Linked DNA regions of Homo sapiens. The protein of the gene in region 2 purifies or fractionates together with the protein of the main gene of each other region. This does not show direct contact. Each region holds a gene or a part of one and is shown on either strand. Other genes may lie near its edges.

The links.
Region 1: the proteins of RAPSN (region 2) and HERC1 purify together in Homo sapiens (affinity purification with mass spectrometry; 2 studies listed by BioGRID and IntAct, with this or other methods). This does not show direct contact.
Region 3: the proteins of RAPSN (region 2) and KCMF1 purify together in Homo sapiens (affinity purification with mass spectrometry; one large-scale study listed by BioGRID and IntAct). This does not show direct contact.
Region 4: the proteins of RAPSN (region 2) and ZZEF1 purify together in Homo sapiens (affinity purification with mass spectrometry; one large-scale study listed by BioGRID and IntAct). This does not show direct contact.

What each region holds. Positions count from the first base shown.
Region 1 is NC_000015.10:63,634,565-63,638,450, reverse strand, and holds part of HERC1 (probable E3 ubiquitin-protein ligase HERC1), read left to right. Parts: coding exon 1-40; intron 41-807; coding exon 808-946; intron 947-2,308; coding exon 2,309-2,490; intron 2,491-3,562; coding exon 3,563-3,718; intron 3,719-3,886. UniProt on the Homo sapiens protein: Involved in membrane trafficking via some guanine nucleotide exchange factor (GEF) activity and its ability to bind clathrin. Acts as a GEF for Arf and Rab, by exchanging bound GDP for free GTP.
Region 2 is NC_000011.10:47,446,072-47,450,430, forward strand, and holds the start of RAPSN (43 kDa receptor-associated protein of the synapse), read right to left. Parts: upstream 3,066-4,359; 5' UTR 2,894-3,065; coding exon 2,702-2,893; intron 2,080-2,701; coding exon 1,741-2,079; intron 1,367-1,740; exon of another isoform or gene 1,256-1,366; intron 1-1,255. UniProt on the Homo sapiens protein: Postsynaptic protein required for clustering of nicotinic acetylcholine receptors (nAChRs) at the neuromuscular junction. It may link the receptor to the underlying postsynaptic cytoskeleton, possibly by direct association with actin or spectrin.
Region 3 is NC_000002.12:85,026,607-85,030,492, reverse strand, and holds part of KCMF1 (E3 ubiquitin-protein ligase KCMF1), read right to left. Parts: intron 2,605-3,886; coding exon 2,437-2,604; intron 1-2,436. UniProt on the Homo sapiens protein: E3 ubiquitin-protein ligase which accepts ubiquitin from an E2 ubiquitin-conjugating enzyme and then transfers it to targeted substrates, promoting their degradation by the proteasome.
Region 4 is NC_000017.11:4,132,890-4,136,775, forward strand, and holds part of ZZEF1 (zinc finger ZZ-type and EF-hand domain-containing protein 1), read right to left. Parts: intron 1-3,886. UniProt on the Homo sapiens protein: Histone H3 reader which may act as a transcriptional coactivator for KLF6 and KLF9 transcription factors.

The DNA.
Region 1 (3,886 bases), on a different chromosome or scaffold from region 2:
GGTACCTGCAGCAGCTCCCTCATTCTCACAGGCCCAACAGGTAACTAACAGGATAAAAAATAGAAAAGAAACATGGGAACTGAAAATTCTAATTCTTTTGCTTGTCTTATTGTGGGATAAAGCTTGTCCATTTCATAATCTATTATGAGGAATCATTAAAGAAAGTCATGATATATAGCTTTCAAATAAAAACTTGGTGTGGTTTTTATCAGACTTAAGAAGTTAACAAATTTCTAAATTTTTCTTTCAAGTTTAATGAACTAACATCATGATGTGTTAGGCCTGCCCAGTATGTATTTCTAGCAGTTTAGATACTCCTAATTAGTGATTTTCTCTTTGGGGCTAAAAACTTCCTAGGATCTTTAGCCAGATTTTATCGACCACTCCCCTTTTCTAATAATCCTGGTACGATATAGCGCCAAACCCTTCTCGAGGCCTCTGCTTTCTCTTTTGCTCTTCTTTACCTCAGCTAGTCCAGATTGCATGACTCATTCTTATGTACGAGTTTCTGCTTCTTTCTAGCCCAGTCTTTAATGTTTCCCCATCACCCCTTCCTTTTTCTTTCATCCATTTTGTTGTTCTAAACTATTTTAAATGGATGAATCTCATACATCTCTTGGTTAAATAAGCAGTTTTATAGTCATCAAGGAGTTACGGGACTGCATAGTTATATCAACTCTTCCCTTTCAGTAAAAGGATAAAACAATTATAAAAGCATTCTATGTATACGTGGAATCATTTCAAGTGCTTGCATGTTAAAGCAATATAATAAAGAATAAAATATTTAATTCTGTGTTTTTATACTAGGTCATTTGTGGTCAGAATTGTACCTTTGTCATCCAGGCCAATGGCACAGTGTTGGCTTGTGGGGAAGGAAGTTATGGCAGATTAGGACAAGGAAATTCAGATGACCTTCATGTGCTGACAGTTATTTCAGCCTTACAAGGTAAAATTGTCCTTAATAAAAAGATGGTTAGAACCTAAGGCCTAATGTAGGTTTGGTCGTACAAACCTTTGCCCTTCTCAAACCTTTGCTAGATAAAATCATATCAGGTTTTCACTTACATTTAAATCCTTATTTAGGCATGTGTGCAGCCTTAATTTCCATATTTTAAGCTATATTGCAGGTTACTTATAGCAATGCTAGAATTCAGTGAAATATAAATAACACTTTTTGAGACCCACTGAAGATTGTAAACAAATGCTTAAAAATTGCAAAAGTGTAAGTAGGCAGATGTTAATAGCAGTAGCAATCATGCATGTATTTCATTAAAATTAAAAATCAGTTTATATGGAAATCTGCAAATGTGCTAAAGACTTTAAAGGACATCTTCATCAGAGTTCTTTGTGACTTGGAGAGAGAACACCTTTGGAGAAACCACTGTACAAGCCCCCGGCTTGCTCATTAACTGAACTCATAATGACTCTGAAGCCTACAAAGAGAGCACCGACGGTTTTTTTAGGTAAAAGCATACAAGTAACTATGAGTTCAAAACAAGTTCCTAGAAGCTCAGGTTCTTTTCATTGTGATCTGAGTGTGAAGAGCACAGCAGTAAAGATGAGAATGTGTGCTGGGTTCCTATGGGTTCTACTGGTCCTTGGCTCTGGGACATTGCACAAGCTTCGAGACCTCTTTGTGACTCAGTTTTCCCACTTGTAAAAATGGGATGTTAGTATCTGTTTCATAGGTGCTATGTGAAAGTAGAAAATGAGATAATCCATGTAAAGCATTTATAGGAGTGGCTAGAGCATAGCCAGTCATTAATGACTGTAACTATTGCTGTCATCCTCGTTTTCCTTGTCATCACCATTATTTTAGGTGACTATTCGCAGTTTTGCTAGGTTATGGCTACAAATTCAATTTAAAACTAAAGAAATTAGGCCGGTTACTGTGGCTCATGCCTGTAAACCCAGCGCTTTGGGAGGCCGAGGTGGGCGGATCACTTGAGGTCAGGAGTTCATGACCAGCCTGGCCAGCATGGTAAAACCCTGTCTCTGTTAAAAATACAAAAATTAGCCAGATATGGTGGCACATGCCTGTAATCCCAGCTACTCAGGAGGCTGAGGCAAGAGAATCACTTGAACCGGGGAGGTGGAGGTTGCAGTGAGCCGAGATCACACCACTGCACTCCAGCCTGGATGACAGAGTGAGACTCCATCTAAAAAAAAAAAAAAAACTAATGAAATTATTCTTATTTTCATAGTACCAATTCGGTGGTTTTTGATTGAGGGTATTCAGTAGCAGCTGCAAGTAAAGAGGAGAGTTTTAACATCCAGTGACTCCTGTTGGGTTTCTGTTCTGTTCCAGGCTTTGTGGTGACCCAGCTGGTGACTTCCTGTGGTTCTGATGGGCACTCTATGGCCCTAACTGAAAGTGGTGAGGTCTTTAGCTGGGGAGATGGTGACTATGGTAAACTTGGCCATGGGAACAGCGACAGGCAGCGGCGGCCCAGGCAGATCGAGGCCTTACAAGGAGAAGAAGTGGTGCAGGTCAGGCAGGAAATGGATAAGTTTGCCTTTCATTGTAAATATACTAGTTGTTGAATAGGTTTCTTAAAATTAGGTAACAGAAAATATAGTAAAAATATATTACACAGTAATTATAAGAGATCCATTGGTTTTGGATGTTCAGATTCATTCTTGAGCTTGTCAGAAGTTTGAATAGGCTTTGGTGTTAGTATTGGTCTTGTTAGTATTGGTTAGAATGGTCTTTTTCGTGAGCCAGCTGGTTGGCCCAGACTAGGGTGCTGCACGCCCTTGGAAGGAATATTGTGTGGTTTAACTTCTGCCACACAGTTCTTAATACACAGATAAAAGGAAAACTTTGCTTTTAACCTATCATTTATGTTACAAAAGCTAAGTTAACATGCATTTTCTGGAAAATAGTGTTCTAAAATCATATTGTAAGATTGTATAGCACCTTATAGTTTACAAACAATTTCCCCATTTATTATCTCATTTAGTCTAGGTCATGTGTACACAGCTGAAGAGTAGCAGTAGTTACTCCAGGGTATGCTGTTCAGCTTGGGCTTCCTGAGGCTGTTGAGACAGATCAGACTTGGGAGAGCAGGAGAGCAACTTGGGCAGATAAATGTACCAGTTGGCCAGATGCAGTGGCTTATGCCTGTAATCCTAACACTTTGGGAGGCCAAGGCAAGAGGATTGCTTGAGGCCAGGAGTTTGAGACCAGCCTAGACAACATAGCAAGACCCTGTCTCTACAAAAAATAGAAATAAATAGCCAGGTGTGGTAGCACATGCCTGTAGTCCCAGCTACTTGGGAGGCTGAGGTGGGAGGATTGCTTGAGCCCAGGAGTTTGGGGCTGCAGTGAGCTGTGATCACACCACTGCACTCCAGCCTAGGTGACAGAGCAAGACACTGTCTCTTTAAAATTTAAAAAAAAATTAAAAAAAAAAATTTTTAAAAGCATTGGTCTTTGAAGATCCAGTTTTCAGTGAAGTTTATGTAAAGTTTATTGCTATATTAATACCAAAAATGGCAGATTTACTTTTTTCTTAGTTTCCCTTCTTAAAAATTTTCTTTCTCCTTGGTTCTGTCTTAGATGTCTTGTGGCTTCAAGCACTCAGCAGTGGTCACTTCAGATGGCAAACTGTTCACCTTTGGGAATGGTGACTATGGTCGTCTGGGTCTTGGAAATACCTCTAACAAAAAACTTCCAGAGAGAGTGACTGCACTGGAGGGATATCAGATTGGACAGGCATGGAATAAATCAATAAGATATTCTAGCTGATCATTGTTTCTCATTTCTTCTGTGTTCGCTTAGACACCCTCAGGAAGATCAGGATCACCAGTTGTACCTAACCTCATGTACATTTTGCTATGGTCTAATTGATAATTTTAACTGTTTCCCAATGTGAAATTCATA
Region 2 (4,359 bases):
GTGTGAGCCACCATGTCTGGTTCATTTTTAAAGTTTGGTGCAGATGGGGTCTTGCTATGCGACTCAAGCTGCTCTCAAACTCCTGGGCTCAAGCAATCCTTCTGCTTGGCCTCTCAAAGTGCTCAGATTATAGGCATGAGCCTTGCCAAATTAAAAAAAAAAAAAAACTGTTTGTAGACGCTGGTCTGGAACTCCTGGTCTTGAGCGATCCTCACCCCTCAGCTTCTCAAAGTGCTGGGATTACAAGTGTGAGCCACCAGGCCTAGCTTACTTTTCTTCAGAATTAAAAAGGTTTTTAAAAACCCCTGTCCTGCCCCAGTCCTATCTCATCTCACTGAATGGCTCCCCCTTACATCTGCTTCCTAAAAACAAAGTCCTGGCTGTCATCCTTGGTGACTCGTTTCCTCCCATCCCACCTTGGATCCATCAGCATTTATCCACTCACTAACTCCAAGATTTATTAAGCATCTACTGGGGCCAGGCATTAAATCCCCCATGGACCAAGCACAGCACAGATACCTGAGGGGAAAGGGAACAAAAATACCCAGGGTTGGCCGGGTGCGGTGGCTCACGCCTGTAATCCCAGCACTTTGGGAGGCCAAGACGGGCGGATCCCTGAGGTCAGGAGTTCAAGACCAGCCTGGCCAACATGGTGAAACCCCATTTCTACTAAAAACACAAAAATTAGCCGGGCGTGGTGGTATACGCCTGTAGTCCCAGCTACTTGGGAGGCTGGGGCAGGAGAATCGCTTGAACCCAGGAGGCGGAGGTTGCAGTGAGCCGAGATGGCACCACTGCACTCCAGCCTGGGTGACAAGAGCAAAACTCCGCCCCTGCCCCCGCCAAAAAATACCCAGGATCAGAACCTGCTGTGGCTGATCCTATCAGTTCCTTCACAGTTGGCCCTCCTCCTCTCACCTCCCTACCTCCGCACACACCTGAGACACGCCTGGCAGCCATGCTGGCCTCTGTCCTTCCTGGAACATTCCAGGAAACATTCCAGGATGCTCCCCCAGGGTCCAGCTTGGCTTTAGGGGCTCGCCCATTTTTGCCTAGAATGCTCTCTCACCAGATTTTTGCATGGCACACCCTCTCTTCTTCAAGCCATCAAACATCACCTCTGCGAGGCCCTCCGACCACTATATTTGAAATTATGACACCCCCACGCCCAGTGCTGCCAGCCCTTTGCCCCGCTTCGCTTTCTCCTAACCACTTGACTTCCTGACTGTGTTGATCGTCTTTCTTCTCCAACTAGAATGCAACCCTCGTGAGGACGGGGACTTGGCTGTTTTTCTCACTGCTACACCCTGGGTCAACAGTCTTGGGATACAGTAGCTGGTCAATAAATATTTGATGACTGACTCCATACAACCCCACTGTAAGGTGAGTCCTATTCTCCTTCATTTTACAGATCTCTCCCAAGGTTCAGAGAGGATAGGTGACTTGCCCAAGACCACACAGCAAACATGGCAGTGCAGGCCGCTGGCCTGTCCTCACAGAGGAGCCTCCCATTATTCCTCCAGGAAGTCACACAGATCAAGGTTTGAATCCTGGCTCTGCCCTTGCTGGCTTCCTGGCCAAGTTGTTACCTTCCTGGATAAGCCTTTTTGCTCTCTGATTCTCACTCTCCTCAGCCCTCCCTAAAAGGAGGGCTGAATGAGGTAGTGCCACAGGGTGTGTGCCTCATGAGAGGGGAGCCCCAAAACCCTCCACTGCTGTCCCCCTGGGGTGCAGGCCCACCTTGACCTGGGCATAGAAGCTGCCCAGGCTGCAGCACACGCGGCACTCGAGCATGGCGTCATCATTGTTGTGGGCATAGCGCAGGGCCTTCTCGAAGCTCTCCAGGGCCTTCTGGAAGACGCTGAGGCCCAGGAAGGCATTGCCCATGCTCAGGCTGACCTGGCCTCCGAGCTGGGCACCTGCCCTGGTACCAGGCAGCCCAAGGCAGGTCTTGCAGTAGGAGATGGTCTTGTGAAACTCGCACAGCTTCTCGTTGCTGCGTGCCAGGTTCAGGTAGCTCTCCAGGAGGAAGTCGGCATCCTCCAGCTCCCGGGCCGTGTCGATCTGGACCACAGCGAACTGCACACAGCGACGGTGGGCAGGTGGTGCTCAGCCTGGACTCTGAGCCTTGGACCCCAGCCTGCACTGCAGGCTCAGACCTGGAGGCCCCACACCCACCCCCCAGCCTCACACCCAAAGCAGCAGATCCCAAAGCTTCTTTTCAGACCCAGAGCTTCTACCCGCCAGCCTCAGCTACCTTCCCTACACCCCAGCCTCACCTCCCAAGCTCAGGCTTGCAGCCTTCACCTTCTATCCCAAGCCTCAGATCTGGAGTCTCCACCACCCACCCACCCCCAGCCGCAACCCTGGAGCCCACACCCCGCCAGGCTCAGACACAGAACACCAGACAGGAAGGCTGAAACCTACAATGGGCTTGAGACCCACAAACCCTCGACCCTGAGGCTGGAGAACCTCAGTCTCAGAGACTCGGGCACCACAGTTCAAGGCCACAGGCCTGAATCTGATGCCAAGACTCAGTATCTAAGACCCAGGGCCTTAGATATAAATTCAGAGCCTCGGGCCCTGGCTGCCAGCCTGTGGGACACAGGGGAGCCCGAGGAGGCCGAGAGGGGACTGGGGAGCCTGGGAGACATCCGGCCCCAGCCTGACCCTCGAACGCCCCCAGGCCGGGTACACCCACCTTCAGCATCTCCTTGTAGCGGCCCATCTCCGAGTGGGCTGTGACCAGGCAGCCCAGCACGCGGAAGCGCCCCATGAGGTCCGAGCTCTTCTCCAGCACCTTTGTCCACACCTGCAATGCCTTCTCTGTCTGGTTGGACTGGTACAGCTGGAGCCCCTTCTCGATCTGCTGCTTGGTCTGGTCCTGCCCCATCCTCCCCAAGCCCTGTGTCCCACGTGGGGTGATCCCTGGTGGCTCCGTGCCTCTAGGCACTCATGGGGCAGGAATCACAGTGCCAGCTGCCCCCCGAAACGTGGGAACAAAAGCAGCGTCGGGTGGGAGCCGGAATGGGGCCTGGATGGAGAGCAGGCGCCACCCTGGGAACAAAGCTGGTTCAGCCCGTCTGCAGCTGTCGCTGCCAGTTGGGGCCACATGGCCTCTGAGGAATGTCAGCAGCAAGGTCACGTGGGCCTCTGCTGCACCCACCCGCGAGCTGGGACGTGGCTTCCCTGAGCATACAGGCACCTTGCCACCTGGGCACCCCCTTGGGCGTCCCTTAGGCACCTCTGACACTGACCCTGACCGCCCTGGCAGCACGGGCCCTCCCAGCAGCCTTGCCAAGGGGCCAGCTCCAGCAAGTGGGCAGGCCTTGGGCTAGAGGTGCTCGGGGGAAGGAGAGCGAGGCTGGACCTGCAGGTCCGGGGAAGCCAGGTGAGCGCCCAGCCCTGCTTCTTCCCCATCAAGACACCCCTGACCGCAGCATCCCCTGGCTCTGTTCCTGAAATTCACTGAGCACCGTGGGTCACTCATCCAGGCCCAGGCTGACACCATTCACCAACTCTCACCTTAGAGAGTCTGGGAAAGACCTCCAGCTGGTGAGAGGCCTGAGCTCTAGCCTGGCTTCCTTCGAACTCTCAGTGGGACCCTAGCCAAGTGACCTGGCACCGTGGACTGAAGAGAGGAATGGTACCTGGCTCACTGGACTGCTATGAGAACTCAATGACGAAAGAGTTGAGAAGGACTTAGGACAGTGCCCGGCACAGGAAACCCCGCATGTGCTGCAAGAGGCTATTTTGCTCCATGGCAAATCCCCACCCGGGCCAGAACCCAGCCCTTGAAGTTTCAATGTCTCACTTCCAATCCCAACCCCGGGCTGAAAGGGTCCTCATAATGAGATTTAACACCAGATACTGTGGAGAAGGGCAAGGTCTTATGTAGTATTGGGGCCCCCGCTAGCAGGCCAGCTCATCCAGCCCCCCTTTCTCCTCTCTCTGCATGCCAGCCTTCTTCCTGCCCCAGGGCAAAAGTTTATCCTTTCTGGCTGGGCAATTCAGTGGTTTTTAGTATATTCACAGAGATGCACATTAATTGCCACTAATTCCAGAACATTTTAACCACCCCAAAAAGGAGACGCACACCCATCAGCAGTTACACCACTCCATTCCCCACCTTGATATGACTGAATCATGTCCCCCCGCAACCAAACGCATATGTTTAAGTCCTAACACTCAGTATCTCATAAGGTGACTGTCTTTGGAGACAGGGTCTTTAAAGGGTGATTAAGGTAAAATGAAGTCACATTGTACCTCATCCAGTTAAGACTGGTATCCCCCCCCCCTTTTTTTTGAGACAGGGTCTCACTCTGTCACCTAGGCTGGAGTGCAGTGGTGCAGTCACAG
Region 3 (3,886 bases), on a different chromosome or scaffold from region 2:
ATGGGTCAAATATCTAAATGTAAGAGCTAAAACTATAAAACTCTTAGAAGAACACACAAGTTTAAATCTTCGTGACTTTGAATTAGGCAGTGATTTTCTAGATACAGCATCAAATGCACAACAAATGAAAAAATACATAAACGGGACATTATCAGAATTAGAAGTTTTGTGCTTCAAAGCACACCACCAAGAAAGTGAAAACACAACCCACAGAATGGGAGAAAATTTTTGCAAATCATCTATCAGATAAAAAAACTTACATAAGGAATAAAAAACTATTACAATTCAATAACAAAGACACATTATCCAATTAAAAAATGGGCAAAGGATCAAGGTATTTCTTCAAAGTAGATATACAAATGGCCCATAAGCACAAGAAAAGATGCTCAACATAATTTATATTTCAGAGAAATATAAATCAAAACCACCTGAGATACTACTTTACACCTACTAGGATGGCTGAAATAAAAAGGACAAAAAGTGTGGGCTAGGTAAGAAATTATAGCACGAAGCCAGGCGTGGTGGCTCATGTCTGTAATCTCAGCACTCTGGGAGGCCCGCAAGTGGATCACCTAAGATTAGGAGTTCAAGACCAGCCTGGCCAACATGGTGAAACCCTGTCTCTATTAAAAATACAAAAAAAATTTTCTGGGCATGGTGGCGGGCACCTGTAATCCCAGCTATTCAGGAGGCTGAGGCAGGAGAATCGCTTGAACCCAGGAGGTGGAGGTTGCAGTGAGCTGAGATGGCGCCATTGCACTCCAGCCTAGGCGACAAGAGTGAAACTCTTGTCTCAAAAAAAAAAAAAAAAAAAATTATAGCATGAAACATTTATATATTTTCTTACAATGTCTTCTAATCAACTGTAGAAACAATCTGCCTTTTTTTTTTTTTGAGATAGCGTCTTGCTTTGTTGGCCAGGCCGGAATGTAGTGGCACAATCAGGGTTCACTGCACACTTGACCTCCTGGGCTCAAGTGATCCTCCCATCTCAGCCTCCCAAGTAGCTAGGGCTACAGATGCATGTGCGCCACCACATCCAGCTAATTTATTGTATTTTTCGGGGGTGGATGCAGAGACAGGGTTTTTGCCATGTTGCCCAGGCTCATCTCAAACTCCTGGGCTCAAGTGATCTGACCATCTTAAGCCTCCCAAAGGGCTGGGATTACAGGCGTTAGCCACCATAACCAGCCAACAATCTGTTTTCTGGTCACTACAAAAGCTATTATTGCTGGGCATGGTGGCTCACGTCTGTAATCCCAGCACTTTGGGAGGCGAAGGCAGGTGGATAACTTGAGGTCAAGACCAGCCTGGCCAACATAGTGAAACTTCATCTCTACTAAAAATACAAAAAAATTAGCTGGGCAAGGTGGCACACACCTGTAGTCTCAGCTACTCAAGAGGCTGAGGCACGAGAATTGCTTGAAGCCAGGAGGCAGATGTTGCAGTGAGCCGAAATCCGGCCACTGCATTCCAGCGTGGGCGACAGAGTGAGACTCTGTCTTAAAAAAATAAAAAATAAAATAAAATAAAGCTATTATTTGTGTGTTAATAGCACGAACAAAAGACAGAGCATATTTCTTCTTTACTGAAGCACTCTTCTATTTCATTCCTTGTCAGTTGTGTATATTTCTGAATGGTTTTTTTAAACAAGTAAACTATGATTAAGATGAACAGACAGAATTACTTAGTACGTAAAAAGTAAGGCCGGGCGCGGTGGCTTACGCCTGTAATCCCAGCACTTTGGAGGCCGAGGCAGGTGTATCATTAGGTTAGGAGTTCAAGACCAGCCTGGTTAACATGGTGAAACCCTATCTCTACTAAAGATACAAAAAATCAGCCGGGCATGGTGGTGCACGCCTGTAATCCCAGCTCCTTGGGAGGCTGAGGCAGGAGAATCGCTTGAACCTGGGGGGTGGAGGTTGCAGCGAGCTGAGATCACGACATTGCACTCCAGCCTAGGCGACAGGGTAAGACTCCTCAAAAAAAAAAAAAAAAAAAAAAAAAAAGCCAGGCACAGTGGCTCACGCCTATAATCCCAGCACTTTGGGCGGCTGAGTCGGGCAGATTGACTGAGGTCAGGAGTTCGAGACCAGTCTGGCCAACGTGGTGAAACCCTGTCTCTACTAAAAATACAAAAAAATTAGCCAGGCGTGGTGGTGTGCACCTGTAATCCCAGCTACTCGGGTGGCTGAGGCAGGGGAATTGCTTGAACCAGGGAGGTGGAGGTTGCAGTGAGCCAAGATCGCGCCATTGCACTCCAGCCTGGGCAACAAGAGCGAAACTCCGTCTCAAAAAAAAGTAAGATTTATTTCATGTTTAATGAATTTGGGGCTTATGGTATGCTGCTGGGGAGTTTTAGAACACTTTGCCTTTACTTCTTCAACGTACATAAAATTCTAAATGATGTAATTCATTAAATTTTTAATTACTTACCAAAATCTACCCTTGTTAATATGCACTGCATTGGGTGGTCAGTTGTATGCCTTGTTGTTGTTGCACCACTTTCATAACAAGATGCACAAAGATCGTAATCGTAGCAAATTAAACACTTATATCTGCGACCTCGAAAATTTCCTTTTAAACATGCATCACAGCTGACACCTATAAAAAAAAGAAATATCTTTAGTTACCAGTTGTAAAGGCCACTCTTGATTTCATTTTTATGAATGTTTCAGGTGCTCATTTAACCTCATATGTCCTTTCCAAAATGACTAGAAATGACTTAGTAAAATGATACGGGAAGTTTTAGCCATGTGCTGGATTCATTACTCTGATTTATACTCCACATGAAAATAATTTAAAATGACTGATACAGGCTGGGTGCAGTGGCTCACGCCTGTAATCTGAGCACTTTGCGGGGGTCGAGGCGGGTGGATCACTTGAGGTCAGTAGTCCAAGACCAGCCTGGTCAACATGTTGAAACCCCGTCTCTACTAAAAATGCAAAAATTAGCTGGGCGTGGTGGCTGGCACCTGTAATCCCAACTACTTGGGAGGCTGAGGCATGAGAATTGCTTAAACCCAGGAGGTAGGGTTGCAGTGAGCTGAGATCGCGCCACTGCACTCCAGCCTCACAACAGAGTGAGGCTTTGTCTCAAAAAAAAAAAAAAAAAAAAAAAAAAAAGCCTTGATAAGCCAGCAAGAAGGTAAAAACCAAGACGAAGAGGAACTGGTGACTGGAAGCACTAAAGAAGGCTTTTCACCATGAGGGTATTTGCCCAAGCAGGTAAAAATCTAAGCTTAAGGTCCACAGCATTATTGGACAAAGGCCTAGTGAAGGTGGGATAATTAACAGAAGATTCCTCATAAAACCAAGACCCTAATATACTCTCAATGCATGGGTAGGCTAGAAATCCTCCCTAGGGGATTACAAAAATTACCCCAGTGAAAGCCCCCTGCCCTAGGGGCACAAAATAACACAAAAAGCCATAACCACAAACCAGTCCTCATGGGTTTATAGCCCAAATTCTATCAAATGGTTCCAAAGACCTTGGGTCAAGAATTTTAAGTGGTCTTAAATTAGAATTGATACCAAGCATCTGGCATATATAAACATCCAAAGAATAAGTTCATAATTTAAACCATAAAATACACACAAAAAAACAAAGCACCATCAGAAAGAACTAGCAGGAGCAGCAGAATCAGTCATGAGTTCATATCAGAATTGGGGCATCAAATAATTCTTGACCTGTTAAAAGAAATAACTGGGTGTGGTGGCTAACACCTATAATCCCAAGCACTTTGGCAAGGCGAGGCAGGGGGATGGCTTGAGGCCAGGAGTTCAAGACCAGCCTGGGCAACATAGAGAGATCCTGTCTACAAAAAAATTTAAAAATTAGCTGGGCATTGTGGCCTGTGCCTGTAGCCTTAGCTACTTGGAAGGT
Region 4 (3,886 bases), on a different chromosome or scaffold from region 2:
TGGGAGGTGGAGCTTGCAGTGAGCTGAGATCACGCCACTGCAGTCCAGCCTGGGCGACAGAGCGAGACTCCATCTCAAAAAAAAAAGTGGAGCAGGTGGGGGAAGAAGGAGGTGGCACAGAGCAGAGCCTCATCTTCCCTGAGGCCCTGCGGTGGGAACGCTACACTACCAGATAATAGCTACTTCCCAAATTGTTCACATTATAGCATACTGAGAAAATAATGATATTTGTAAGACTCAAGGTCTGAGGAGATTAGCACAGCTATCATTCATTCAGTTGGGAACGACACACAGACTTGGAAACTATGAATCAATATTTGGGCACTCGTTAAATGCCAGGCACCGAGCAGAGCATTTTATATACTATAATGTCATTTATTCCTCATAACAGTAACAGTACTATTAACCTCCCCGTCTTATAGTTGTACAGAGAGGTCAGGTACCTTGCCTGAGGTCACACAGCTAGTGTTTGCATCCAAGGCTTCAGGGTTCATGTTCTTCACCACAACTCCCTTCCCCTTCCTTTGACCAGATAACCCCTCGGGTTCCTTACCATCTGAAGACCAAATGCTTAAAACCTCTTAGCTCCATTACTTTCCTCCATCTATAAAAGCTGCTTTCCGCTCCTTTTGTCCAGGTGAACTCCTATCAACTCTAGAAGTGAGACTCACTCCCTCTGAATCTCAAGGTAGCACTCAAGTCCCACTTCCACCAAAACTTCCACAAATCAAGCACTCCCTGCACCTCCAACTTCCCACACAACTCCTGCTGTGTATTGCTAATAAAAATTCTATATAACCAAGGCTATAAAAATACTGACATTTTTGCTATCTTTTTTTTTTTTCTTTTTGAGACAGGGTCTTCATCTACCACCCAGGCTAGAGTGCAGTAGCGTGATCACAGCTCACTGCAGCCTTGACCTCCTAGGTTCAAGCGGTCCTCCCACCTCAGCCTCCTGAGTGGCTGGGACATGCTCAGCTAGTTTTTTATTTTTTTGTAGAAACAAAGTCTCACTATGTTACCCAGACTGGTCTCAAACTCCTGGGGTCAAGCAATCCTCCTGCCTTGGCCTCCCAGACTGCTGGATTTATCGGCATAAGCCACTGTGCCAGGCCATTTTTGCTATTTTTAATAGATTCTATTGATTCATCAATAGTTAATGAATATGATAAAAGGGATTTTCGAATAAAACAAAAACAAATAATTTTGGCTAAGAAAAAAATTACCACAGCTTTGTGAACAGCTTCACCAAATAATTATGTAATTTCCTAACACTCAAAAACTGACTGTCTTAAGAAAAGAAATGTTCAGGTTTGCTACCCAGGAGGCTGAGGTGGGAGGACCGCTTGAACCTAGGAGGTCAAGGCTGCAGTGAGCTGTGATCACACTACTGCACTCTAGCCTGGGTGGTAGATGAAGACCCTGTCTCAAAAAGAAAAAATATATATATATTTATATATATTTATATATATATATTTATATAATATATAATTATTATATAAATACCTGATCCTGTGTTTGGCTCTGTGGATACAAAGATGAATAGGGCACACAGTCCTTTCCCTTCAAAAACCTCACAGCCTAGAAGACAGATCTGTAAACCAACAGCAGCAATGTAATAGGTGTGACAATTACGATACGAGAACTAAGAGTATAAACTATTTACAACAGCCAATGTTAGTGAGCACCAGGCAGAGTTCTAAGCCCTTCACATGGATCAACTTATATTTTCCACAACAACTCTAAAGGTAGGTACTACCTTTTTGCTGGTGACGAACAGAGAGGTTATTTTTTTTAAGGCATATGGTTAGTACACGATGGAGCTTGAATTTGAATCCTGGACTGATTCCAGATGCCACAATTAACCACTATACCATGGGCCAACAGACACTCCAGGGATGAGAAGTCCGAGACAGGGAGGGGCGTTAGGGGAAATGGCCCAGAAAAAAACAACCCTTAAACTGTGCTTTAATGGGTAACTAGGAGTTTGAAAGTATATGGCGAGGGAGAGGCAATCTCAGGTAGAGGAGACAGACTGTCAGCATACATAAAGACTGTATGGCAGATAGTGAGAACTATGACCTGCCTGGTGTGGCTGGAAAGGAACAGGGCAGGTGATGAAGACAGGGCTAGAGGTCAGAATAAAAAGAGCCTGGCAGACCCAGGATGAAGAGCTCAGATATTACAGTAAGGGCACCATGGGGCCACTGGAGACTATTAAGGGTGGAGGGCGCTGATCACCCCAGATCTGCATAAGCTCTCTTATGTGTGGGACCTACAAATCTCTTAAAATATGTGCCTTTGTGCCAGATGCGTTGGCTTACGCCTGTAATCCCAGCACTTCGGGAGCCCAAGGCAGTAGGATTGCTTGAGCCCAGGAGCTCAAGACCAGCCTGGGTAACATGATGAAACCCCATCTCTACTAAAAACAAAAAAATTAGCCTGGCGTAGTGAGGGGCACCTGTAGTCCCAGCTACTCAGGAGGCTGAGGCAGGAGAATTCCTTGAACCTGGGAGGCAAAGGTTGCAGTGAGCTGAAATCACCACTGCACTGCAGCCTGGGCAACAGAGCAAGACTCCATCTTAAAAAAAAAAAGGTGCCTCTGTACAGCCTGAATCCATTCTCCAGTGTCTCTGAGAGCGCTCAGCCACTTTCTGTTACACACATCAGTGATGCTTCCCAGCTCATCTCCTCTGGACAGTTCTGACAGCAGTAACTCTCTTCCTCTAGTGAACTGAAAACCTGCCTCCCCAAAGTTACCATCCCTGGGGCCATTCAGAACACATCTACTCCTTCTGCCCAGAGACAACCTGCAGATCACTGATAACAGCGATCAGGTCCTCGGAGTTCCTGCCAAACCCTTCTCCATTCTTTCCACCAGCTCTCCATTTGCTATGGTCTCAGTCTCATTCCCATCCTGATTGTCACCTTTGGGATCCCTCTAGTTTGTCAATAAACCTCAGAACAAGTGCTTCTCAACTTTTATTGGCTGATCCAGTAAAATACATTTTGCATCATGACCTAGCATACACATAATTGGTATCAAAGTTCCAAGAAACAATGCAATACTTTTTCTCATCAGTTACAATGTACTCTGATATTTTCTCTTTTTTTTTTTTTTTTTGAGACGGTGTCTCGCTGTTGCCAGGCTGGAGTGCAGTGGTGCGATCTCGGCTCACTGCAACCTGTCGCCCAGGTTCAAGCGATTCTCCTGCCTCAGCCTCCCGAGTAGCTGGAACTACAGGCGCGCTTCACCACACTCAGCTAACATGGTGAAACCCCCGTCTCTACTAAAAATACAGAAATTAGCCAGACATGGGGGCAGGTGCCTGTAATCCCAGCTAATCGGGAGGCTGAGGCAGGAGAATCGCTTAAAACTGGGAGGTGGAGGTTGCAGTGAGCCGGTATTGTGCCACTGCATTCCAGCCTGGGCGACAGAGTGAGACTCCGTCTCAAAAAAAAAAAAACAAAGACATTACAGAGGCTAGAATAAACATCTTGAACTACAACCATAGAAAACAGTAACACTGCCAATTACAACACTTATTGAGCACTGAGCAGGTGAGCTGGTTTTATGGGTGAGGCGACTGAGACACTGTGGTCAAGTAGGTTGACCAAAGTCAGCTGGCTTGAGAATGGTGGAACTAGAACTTGCTCACAAGCAGGCTGGCTCGAGGCCCAGTTCCCAAGCTCAGTCTGAAGAACAGCAGAATGAGCAGACTCATAACACGGCAAACCCGCTGATGCCATTACAGGCTAATTACACACCCGTCCAGGTTGCTATGAAAGGGGTCCCTTTTCGGGGGCAGAGAGGGGGCAGCTTGCAGGCAATGAGTACCAAGGTCCCAGCTGGTTCAGACTGTAGGCTAGGTGCTAAAGGATCATT